2 separate regions of the Homo sapiens genome follow, and region 1 is linked to region 2. The links come from fine-mapping of genetic effects on gene expression. A gene starts in region 2. The other region holds a variant in brackets. All regions are shown on one strand. Distances are from middle to middle.

The links. PIP is the estimated chance that this variant, and not a neighbour inherited with it, causes the effect.
Region 1: its variant is the best candidate, but not a certain one, in a credible set for the expression of CLASP1 in skeletal muscle (FUSION, PIP 0.66).

Annotation. Positions count from the first base shown.
Region 1 is chr2:121,456,621-121,461,620 of GRCh38, reverse strand. CLASP1 (cytoplasmic linker associated protein 1) reads left to right here. Exons shown (of 41, transcript NM_001395891.1): 11 at 428-520; 12 at 1,496-1,641; 13 at 2,646-2,781; 14 at 3,864-3,934. Among named protein-coding and RNA genes, the nearest start is that of CLASP1-AS1, 71 kb to the left of the region's middle. The variant C/AC (reference allele first, on the strand shown) is at 2,470.
Region 2 is chr2:121,646,690-121,652,216 of GRCh38, reverse strand. It overlaps CLASP1 (cytoplasmic linker associated protein 1), which reads left to right and starts at 2,755. Exons shown (of 41, transcript NM_001395891.1): 1 at 2,755-2,845. NIFK-AS1 (NIFK antisense RNA 1) reads right to left here and starts at 2,563. Exons shown (of 4, transcript NR_037857.1): 1 at 1,836-2,563; 2 at 1,535-1,749. RefSeq lists enhancers at 2,245-2,514, 2,546-3,172, 3,173-3,801.

The DNA.
Region 1 (5,000 bases), 190 kb after region 2:
TATACCCTGTACCTTACCTGTTTTCTAGGTAAGATGTGGGGATAAATGAGAAAGTAGATTTGAAACTGTTTAAATTTATAGGTATAGTGTCATGTTATAAATAATACTAAGTGAGAAATGACTTAGGCATCACTGGCTGTTTCCCATTAGCCTTGTTTCTCTTTGTACATGAAATCATCTGTTAAGTTTATAGTAAAGCTATGTTTGAGGCAGGGTTATTCACATATGGCAGCAAATCTTGTGGGTACACATTTGTAGTGAGAAAGATCCTCATTATAGACAAAACTGTTCAGATATTTTCTCATAGGTATTTCTTAAAAAAATAATTTCTTTTACCATACTTAATGTTCTTGACTTCATGTAATTAAGAAATAATCTGTTTATTCTGCATGTTTTTATATTGATTGTAAATTAATTTTGCTTACAGATTTATTCCAGCCGAGACCTTGAGGAATCCATAAACAAAATTAGGGAAATATTATCTGATGACAAGCATGATTGGGAGCAGAGAGTAAATGCTGTAAGCTGTTGACTTCATGTGATTACATTTTCATAAGATGTATTTAAATATCTCAAATACTTTATTGTGAAATTGGGACAGCTCTAATGAATTCTAAATAGTACATATTTTAAGTTCAAATTATCATATTTATACTTCACCTTTTTAGTAGAGTGTCTCCTTTTATTTTTATTTTGAAAACACACCAACTTACACCTTTATGAATCGCCTAGTCTTTTAACAAAGACCTGACTGTGGAATGTATGGTAATAGTCTCCACTCTCACCTTAGCAGAAATTTCATTCTGTGATTGTTTGCCTTTAAGGTGGCTTTTTTGTGGCATTTTTAGTGTATGTCTCCAATATTCTTTTCTTTCTTCTTATCACTTGCTAGAAAGTTGTGTCTCCTTTATTTTTAAAAGTAGATTAATGGAAAGTGGGCTCAGCATTAAAGTGAGGGTGTGTCTTATCTGAGAAGGCTATTTTCTACTGGTTGGCTGGCAAGAAGAGAAGTGGTACAATTGCCATTATATTGTATTTCAAATTCAGACCAGCCATTTAATGGTTCAGTGGAGGATAATAAATACTATAGGAATGCTTCTTCCTTTGATTCTTAAATAAATGGCAGTTGAAGTGGGGTGTCGCGGGGAGGTAAGCTTAGGAGGGGATTTTCACAAGCCAAAAGTTTTTAATTATTTATCATTAGTGTTGTAGGATCTATAAATACTTTAAGATATTTCAAATGTAAAACTTTTTTTGCAGAAATTATAGTATATGTGTCACAAATACTCTAGTTAAAAATTATTTAGTCTTATTTGTGATATGTAGATTTGTTTATTGTATTAGCTAATATTTAACTGGCTGAATTCTTTTGGGAAAGCTTTCTAATCAGTTGAACTTTAACAATGATCTCTTTTGTATTTGATGACTTCTTTTGTTGTGTATAGTCTGTGTTAGAATTGTTTTCTATTTTTCTGAATTTTCTCTATTCCATTAGCTAAAAAAGATTAGATCTTTACTTTTGGCTGGTGCTGCTGAGTATGATAACTTCTTTCAACATTTGCGTCTTTTGGATGGAGCCTTTAAACTCTCTGCTAAGGACCTGCGGTCTCAGGTAGTGCGGGAGGCTTGTATCACGTTGGGGTAAGGACTGCGATGCTCCATATTCTCACCATAAAATAGTGTCACCACAGAGCTTCAGAGATGTCTCCTTGAACATGTGAGCTGGGTCTCTTTAATGTAACTTCTGACTAGTCTCCAAGACCCATTCCAGTTAACACTTCTTTCAGTAGTTTTACAATACTTTTTGCTCAATTATGTGAAGTGTGACAGATTTTAAATTTTATTCAGTGACATAGCTCTGAAGTCTTTATTTCAAACTTTGAAGCAGTTATTAATATGGAAAAGTGAAATTCTATAAAATCCTGTTTCTCTGATTTTTCATTGATTTTTGCTGGCAGGCAATAGCGTGTTTATCAGAATGTTTGTTCCTAGAAGAGTACTGTAGTTATAAAGTTAAAGGCATTTACTGCAGTAAGATTTTATTCTAGCTGTACGTGTACTAGTGATCAAAGCTATTAAAACTTTGTGTTAGAATGTATGTCGGAATATCAAAGCAGCAGCAGCAGCAGGAGGAGGCATTGCAGCTGTTTTAAGTTTTGGCTGAAGTCAGATTTTGAAGCCTGAATATTTTATGTTAAGATAAAAGAAAAAAGAAAAAGGAGCCAAGGGTGCTTTTTCATATTTGTGTTTTATTAATATATAATCAGTTTGTTTGCTATTTTAAGACTAGCTGGGGCAGGTGGGCTGGTATGTGCCTGGAGTCCCAGCTACTTGGAAAGCCAAAGTGGGAGGATTGATTGAGCCCAGGAGTTCAAGTTCAACGTGGGCAAGGTAGTGAGATCCTGCCTCTAGAAAACAAACAAAAAGCTCCACAGACTAGTTGGAAATGTTTTTTTTTAAAAAAAAAAA[C/AC]AACAAAACTTTTGGGCTAAGAACTATTTGCCAAGTTCTTAACATGCACATCGGAAATCTCAGACCCTTGTCCTTTCTAGATAACTTTAAATGAAGGCTCTAGATGTTAAGTGGTTTATATGCTTCACTGTCTCTAAGAAAAATAACTATAGTCCAGTATCCTTTTCTTGTTTTAGGCATCTGTCATCAGTTCTGGGGAATAAGTTTGACCATGGAGCTGAAGCCATTATGCCAACTATCTTTAATTTAATTCCAAACAGTGCCAAAATTATGGCCACATCTGGTGTTGTAGCTGTTAGGTTAATTATTCGGGTAAGTATGTTATAGGCCATGCTTGAAATAAGCAAGTGGTAAATACTGATGGTTGATAAATATTAGAGGCATTTTTGTTAACATAATTATATTGAGTCATTAAATTTATTAGCATAATTATATTGGAATTTTGTATATATATCATCTTTTCCCCCTACTTAATTGTGGCATGTGAGCTTTTTATAATCCATAATGTGAATTATGGTTGTGTTATAAAGTTAATGAGGTATTGATTGTTAACTCACTATTGGTTTAAAATGTTCGAACATCCGGTGTCTGCTTCTGAGTTTATATTGTATTCTTGTTACTCGGATATTACTCTTAGTCTTACCTCCTTAGTCCCAGTCCTTCCGTTTTAGGTATTGGTGCTTGTGGTTTTACTGTTCACCCAAAAGTTTAATTAATTGCACATAAGCACGAAACAAAATGTTCTCTTTGGTTAGGTTTTCTAGGCACTTGTTTGTTTAAATTTAAATAATTATCCAAGTAATTTATACACAGGTTTTTAACAAAATCTAATAGTTCACAAAGGTTTAAAATGGTTTTCCACATTACCTCCCCACCACTTTCAAGTCATTTTTGCCCAGAGGCAGCTCTTGAAACTTTGAGGCTTGATGATGTTGTCTAAAATCTATCCAGAATATTCTTGATTATTGGTTATTTACTTTGTATTATAAGTTCTTACTGTTCTTACTTGCACTGCCTGCTTTAACTGTTAAACCCAAGGTCATTATTGGACATTTCTATTGAAATAGTATCAAAATATATTGGTCTGATGACTCCTTTCAAACCCACTCCTTTTAAACCCACTCAGATGTCTACAGCTGAGATAATTTAGACCTCATACTAATGATTGTTTTAGGCTTATCTTCATGTCATCATGTTGCCTGTTCTTAACTCTGTAAATTTTCTAATGGCTTTTGACAATATCCTGTGAATTCTTTTTTTCTTTTAAAACTCACTGACATTCTAATCTGAATATATATGTGCTATAAGTAGGTTAGTAAGGAAGTGATTCTCTTAATTTTGTTTTGTTTTTGTATTTGCAAGTGTTGACCTCTGTTTTTTGTTGTTCTTCACAGCACACACACATCCCTAGGTTAATACCTGTCATAACAAGCAACTGTACCTCTAAGTCTGTCGCAGTTAGAAGGTAAATTTTAAAGGATTTTCTCATTGTTTTTGAATTGTTTAAAAACCAAAACAAATTCCAAATCTCCTTCCATGGATAAAATTTCATGTATAACATGCTTAGTATTACTTAAAATCACTGCAGTAAATGACTTTGAGTTGAAGAATCAAGATCTAAATATTTTGGGAAATGAATGTGGACAACCTCTATTATGTTTCTGTGTGTGTGTGTGTGTGTGTGTGTGTGTGTATGTCTGTGTGAGAGAAAGTGAGTTTGGGTGTTAGTGGCAGAAGGAGAAGGGGAGAGGACTCCCTGTACATTTTTTTCCTGTGATAATCCTCCTACCTTTGTCATCGGTCTGCCCTATTCCCTGAGTAAAGGCAGTAACTGCATGCAAGAAAAAAATACCGTAAACATCAATGGCAATAGTTTTGTATTAACATAGGTGAGGGGAAAGGTATGTGTTTGCATCTTCTGTTAGCGATTTCTGGGATTCTGAATCTTCACTGTCACTTAGTTCTGTGCAGTTGTGGGAGATATACCCAGAAGACACAGGCAAATACAACCTGGGTAACTAGCTAGGGGTTTGTTCCCAAGTCCCTATCTTATATGTCCTGGCGAGCTGCCCTAAACTACGTGTGAGGAATAAAGACTGTGTTCTTTCAGCTCAGACCTGTGATTCTTGAGTGTTTTAAGAGTCTTTTAAAATCTATGAACCCTCTTTCCAGCAAGTCGTAAATGTACAGAATAGTTTTGTGTAGGTTTTCAGGGAATTCATGAATACCACTAAAGCTGTTCCAGTAGACTGTATTGGGAGTCTTATAGGATAATTACTGGCAGGCTTGGGCAACCTCTTGGCCCCATTCCCTTAGCTGTGTGTCTTGATGCTAGCCCTGTGAAAGAGTCCTTCACTCTTAAGATTTAGAGCCCAGATGACCTTTGCCAGCCGTTTACCTTTTTTCCTGGGGTGTCTTGTTGATCCTGCTGGGTTTCTATGGGTACAAGACCCTCTTAAACATGAAGCAGCTCTATATTTGTCGTTTTAAAATTTATTTTATTATTTTTAACAAATTGGCCAGAGACCGCC
Region 2 (5,527 bases):
AGCCTGGGCAACAGAGTGAGACTCTGTCTCGGAAAAAAACCAAACAAACCCAAAACAGTTCTTTCATCATGTTACTATGCCTAGTCACGGACCTTAAACAATATAAAGTATGAATTTCTATACTTGGTTTCAAAATCTCCCACATTCTATTAATACTAATTTTTGAGACGGAGTCTCGCTGTCGCCCAGCTTGAGTGCGGCGGCGCAATTTCCGTTCACCACAACCTCCACTTCCTGGGTTCAAGCATTTCTCCTGCCTCAGTCTCCTGAGTGGCTGGGATTACAGGTGTGTGCCACCGTACCCGGCTAATTTTTGTATTTTTAGTAGAGACAGGGTTTTACCATATTGGCCAGGCTGGTCTCGAACTTTTGACCTCAAGTGATCCACCCACCTCGGCCTCCCAAAGTGTTGGGATTATAGGCGTGAGCCACTGCGTCTGTCCCCACAAGCTATTAAAATTAGGGTTTTTCTTTTTTTGTTTAAGACTAGCCAAGTGCAGTGGTTGAGAAGTGGAGCACAAGGAGAACAAGGAGTTTGGTCTGTAACTGGCAGTGAACAATCAAGATAACTTACTATCTCTGTATTACCCTAAAAGGATCTTGAAGAGTTATCTGTACACTCATGTTTGAAGCAGTATTATTCACAATAACCAAAAGGTGGAAATAACACAAGTGGTATATACACACAATGGAATATTATTTAGTCTTAAAAGGGAAGGAAATTCTGACACATGCTACAAGATGGATAAACCACAAGGAGATTATGCTATGTGAAATATGCCAGTCACAAAAATACAAATACTGTATGATACCACTTACACGGGGTACACAGTCAAATTCACAGAGACAGAACTAGAATGGAGGTTACCAAGGCTAGCTGGAAAATGGCGAATGAGAAATTGTTTAATGGGTTCGGGGTTTGTTTTGCAAGATGAAAAGAATTCTGGAGACTGGCCGCACGAGGTAAATATACTTAATACTAACGAATTATTCACTCAAAAATGGTTAAGATAATAAATTTTGTTGTGTAGATAAAAAAATTTAAAAATCGATTCCATCTTTCTCATCAAATCTTACTTTTTACTCTTTGTTTCTTTTTTTCCCATTTCAGTTAGATTGCTCTCTTCATTGTACTTCCAGTATGCCTCTTGAGCCTTTGCACCATGGTGTTTCTTCTCTGGAATGGTCTTTCATTATCACCCATCCATTTTCAAAAGGTTGCATGTGCTTTCGTTCCAAAGACATTAGTTTATAGATCCAACCAGGAGTCGCATCCTCCATGTCATCCCTACTCTTTCAAATCACATACCTCTACCTTTTCTGCACTACACAGAAGGGCCTACACACGGCTTTCATACTTTAGCTTAGCCTCTCCGACCATACCTCCTAAGACCCTGAGGATCAGGGGGCATTATCTCATAGTTCTCCCGCACTTCTCTCCCATCCCAACACATACACTAGCAAGGAGCTCCGCACACAAGCTCCTCCAGTAAAAACAACGCACTGGGCAGTGCATCTCAACACATCAAATTACCGGCGTGCATAGGAGCCTGATGCGGCAAATCTGTGGGTCCTTCGGGATCCTTGAAGGCAGCCCTATAATTTGCATTTTTCTACGCTCCAAAACACTTTCCGGGCCAGATGCGGTGGCTCACTCCTGCTGTCCCAGCACTTTCGAAGACCCAAGACGGCGGATCACTTGAGGTCAGGAGTTTGAGACAAGGCTGGGAAACATGGTGAAACCCATCTCTACAAAAAAATACAAAAAGTAGTTGGGGGGGGGTGGTGCACGCCTGTAATTCCAGCTACTCGGGAGGCTAAGGCAGGAGGATCACCTGAGCCTGGGAAGTCGAGGCTGCAGTGAGCCGTGATCGCGCCACTGCACTCCATCCGGCCTGGGCGACGGCGGTGAGACCCTGTCTCAAAAAAATAAAAGCCACCACTTTCCCACTTATTATCCCAGGGAAACGCACGCGACGGAGGAGCGAAGGAGCGTTTATTTGTGGAGGCGCTCAAGTAAGAAACCCTGCTCGCTGGCCGACTCAAGGGTCTCCAAAGCCTTCTCTGGGCTGTCTCCCCTCCCCAAAAGGCAAAGAACCGTTAACAAGTTTACTTCCGGCACAAGCGTCCGCGCCTGCTCGGAAAAGGGAGCGTGGACACACAGCTCTGTTACGGGAAGTCGCAGGGCACAATTTCCTTCATTGCAGTCGCCCTCTGGGCGGACGCCCTAACCCAGAAGTGAAAGACCGTTTCCTTCGAGTATCAGACCCCCGACCAAAGGAAGTTCCACTTGGACGACTTTTACCCAGGGTTTCCCGATTCCTCTTTAGCTCTTCCTATCACGCTCCCTGCTTGCTGGTGCATTGTTGCTGTGGCCACTTAGTTCCGACCTTCCTTGTCTAACTCGAGTTTTGTCGCAACTTTCCAAGGGGCCTAACCACAACCTTTTCCGTAAAAAAAAACAAAAACAAAACCTTTACCCTACGGGTCCCCATCAGGGTCAACTAACGTTCTCCGTGAGGGGCAAAGCTCCCGGGGACTTTACGCCAGCGAAGCCTAACACGGCCAGGCCAGCGCCTGCGCGGGGCGTTACCATAGAGAGGCAGCCGCCTCTCTGGTCTCGGTTTACGCTCTCTATGGTGTACCCGGGTTGGTGGCGGTAAGAAGAAAAAGGGTGACCGCACTGCGCAGGCGCCCTCGGCGTCTCTCTCGCTCTCTCGGTCTTTTTTTTTTTTTTCTTTTTTTTTTTTTTTAATCCCCGCACCAAGCGCTTAACCTCATTGGGGTGGAGGAGAAGGCGGCGGCTCTCTGGTCCGCAGCGGCAACAGTAACGAAAAACAGGGCTGTAAGTACCCGGTCAGGGGGCGGAGGGTCAGACCCGAGCCCTCTCGCGGCCCTGGCCCCTCCCGCGCAGTGGCGGGCGCCGGGTCTGGGTGGGGGCGATGTCCAGCGCTGTCATCGGCTCTTGGGTGCACTTTGGGGGGATGGGGCGGCCCTGAGGTGGGAGCCTGGCGAGGAGCGGGATGCGAGGGTTGTTTATCCAACCAGTAGGTCGCTGAGCCCAGGCTGCTTTGCAGAGGGAGGGGATCGGCCCTGGGGTCAGTCGGGCTTTGTGTGCCCCTCTCTGTTTCCCTTTTCCAGACCCCACCCGGGCCCCCTTCCTAACCCGAGTCTCCCCTGCCGGGTGGGAGAAGCCAGCGAGCCCGGGGCGCGTTTGAAAGGAAGGGAGGGGGCGAGGGAGAGAAACCCACAACAACTAGTCATTGGCGAGTGATGGGTGTGAAGAAAGATCCAGAGAGAAGGGGTGCCGGGAGGCGGGCGGCCCGGGCTCCCGTCCTGGGCTCCCAACCGGGCCAGACAAAAGCTGCGCGAGCGGCGCCGAGCGGAGCGGCCGGCTTGATGGGATGCACAAGGTCCCCTTGGTTCCCGGGGCCTTCGAAGAGCTTCTTTCTGAAGCTGGGAAAGCGAACAAGTGCTGAGTTAAGCCTGTGCAGACTTCTCAACTTGCCTTTGTTGTTCTTTGGTATTGGCAGAGACGCTCTGACGAAGATGAGTGTGTGATCTTGCACGTTAGCCTGGCTAGGTACAATGGAGCTAATCGAATTTTGCTTTCCGTTTTCCGAGCTGCTGGGATGAGTATGGGGCTTTCCAGAGTTTAAATTATTACATAATATTTTTAAAATAGTTGTTTGCTTCTAAAATTAAAAAAAATTAATGTGGAGTCTGAAAGCACGCTGTGGTGAGTTTGCAGCTGAGTTTGCAGCTGGGTGAGTTTCTGTGTAGTGGGGTGCGTTCATTAAATACTGACCATTCGTAGAACCTGTGAGCTCTTTAAACATGATACTTTCATTTGTAGATGTGGCAATGAGAGCTTCAGATTCTCTAGTCCTTTGGGAGACCGTGATGCAGAAGAGTCAGAAGCGAGAAATAGTTTCATGCCGCCATGTACCTTGGACCCTATTTGGGTGCCACAGTCCGTTTTCAATTCTGGCATTAGAAATTGTTTTTATTACTACGATTATTTACGACGGTAACTGACCTCTCGATATGAGGGATCCTGGATATTGGCTCCGTTTGCTCATCAAGGGATTGGGAGAATAGCAACATTGATGTTGCGACCATATAGATAAAAAGTAGCACAGTGCCTCAGAGTATTGAATATTATTTATTTTTTACATTTGTTAAGAAATTTAAATTTTGATGATCTGGTTATCTTGTTAAATTGTGTAATACACCTTTTTAGCAGTTGTTACTGAAATCTCAGTTTCTATAATTCATTGTTTATTATGGGCTACCTTGTAACACCATTTTAGACTTCTAAAGTTTTAGTTTTTATGAAGGAGTTTTCAGCCATAGCTTTTAATTCTCCCAGGTAAGGTTAACCAAAGTCAGGACTCCTTAGAGGAGACTTTGTTGGTGGTGGAGGTGTCAAATATTGTATCTCTGTGTTACAACTGAATTGGCAAATACAGAAAAGGCTTTTGCTAAGTTTTCACCATAAATTTGTGTTAGAACGGAAAACCCAGATCTCCTAGTATGTCAGGCTTTTGAATTAACCCACAGATTCCACTTTATTTATGTAAAAGAGGTAAACTTTTTTTTTAATTGATAGCAAGTAAAACTCTGAAGCCTGGTGTATTATGCTTAAGTAACTAGTGGGATAGAATCTCTTTAAGTGTAGTTCAGATGATGGGAACTTGCTTTTTATAGAGCAAGATTTCAGACCCTTAAAATAGTTTGACAGGGATGTTGAGAAATGATTGGCCAGAAGAACATGAAGTTTGTCATTTAAGTGTGTTATATTTTGTTTACTGGTTTTATTTATTATTTATTTTTATTTTTATTTTTGAAACAGAGTTTCACTCTTGTCGCCCAGGCTGAAGTGCAATGGTGCAATCTCAGCTCACTGCAACCTCCACCTCCTGGGTTCAAGTGATTCTCCTGCCTCAGCCGCCTGAGTAGCTGGGATTACAGGCACCCACAACCATGCCCAGCTAATTTTTGTATTTTTAGTAGAGACAGGGTTTCACTATGTTGGCCAGGCTGGTCTTGAACTCCTGACCTCCTGTGATCAGCCTGCCTTGGCCTTCCGAAGTGCTGGGATTACAGGCGTGAGCAATCGCGCTCGGCCCATGTTTACTGGTTTTAGATTTAGATTTTTTTTTTTTTTTTTTTTTGAGATGGAGTCTCGCTATGTTACCCAGGCTGGAATGCAGTGGCGCGATCTGGGCTCACTGCAAGCTCCGCCTCCCAGGTTCATGCCATTCTCCTCCCTCAGCCTCCCGAGTAGCTGGGACTACAGGTGCCCGCCACCATGCCCGGCTAATTTTTTTGCGTTTTCTTAGTAGAGACGGGGTTTCACCGTGTTAGCCAGGATGGCCTTGATATCCTGACCTCATGATCCGCCTGCCTCAGCCTCCCAAAGTGCTGGGATTACAGGCGTGAGCCACCACGCCTGGCCTAGATTTAGATTTTTTGCTTCCGTCTTGTTTATTTTCTTAAGTAGCTTAGTGTCTTGATTTATAAG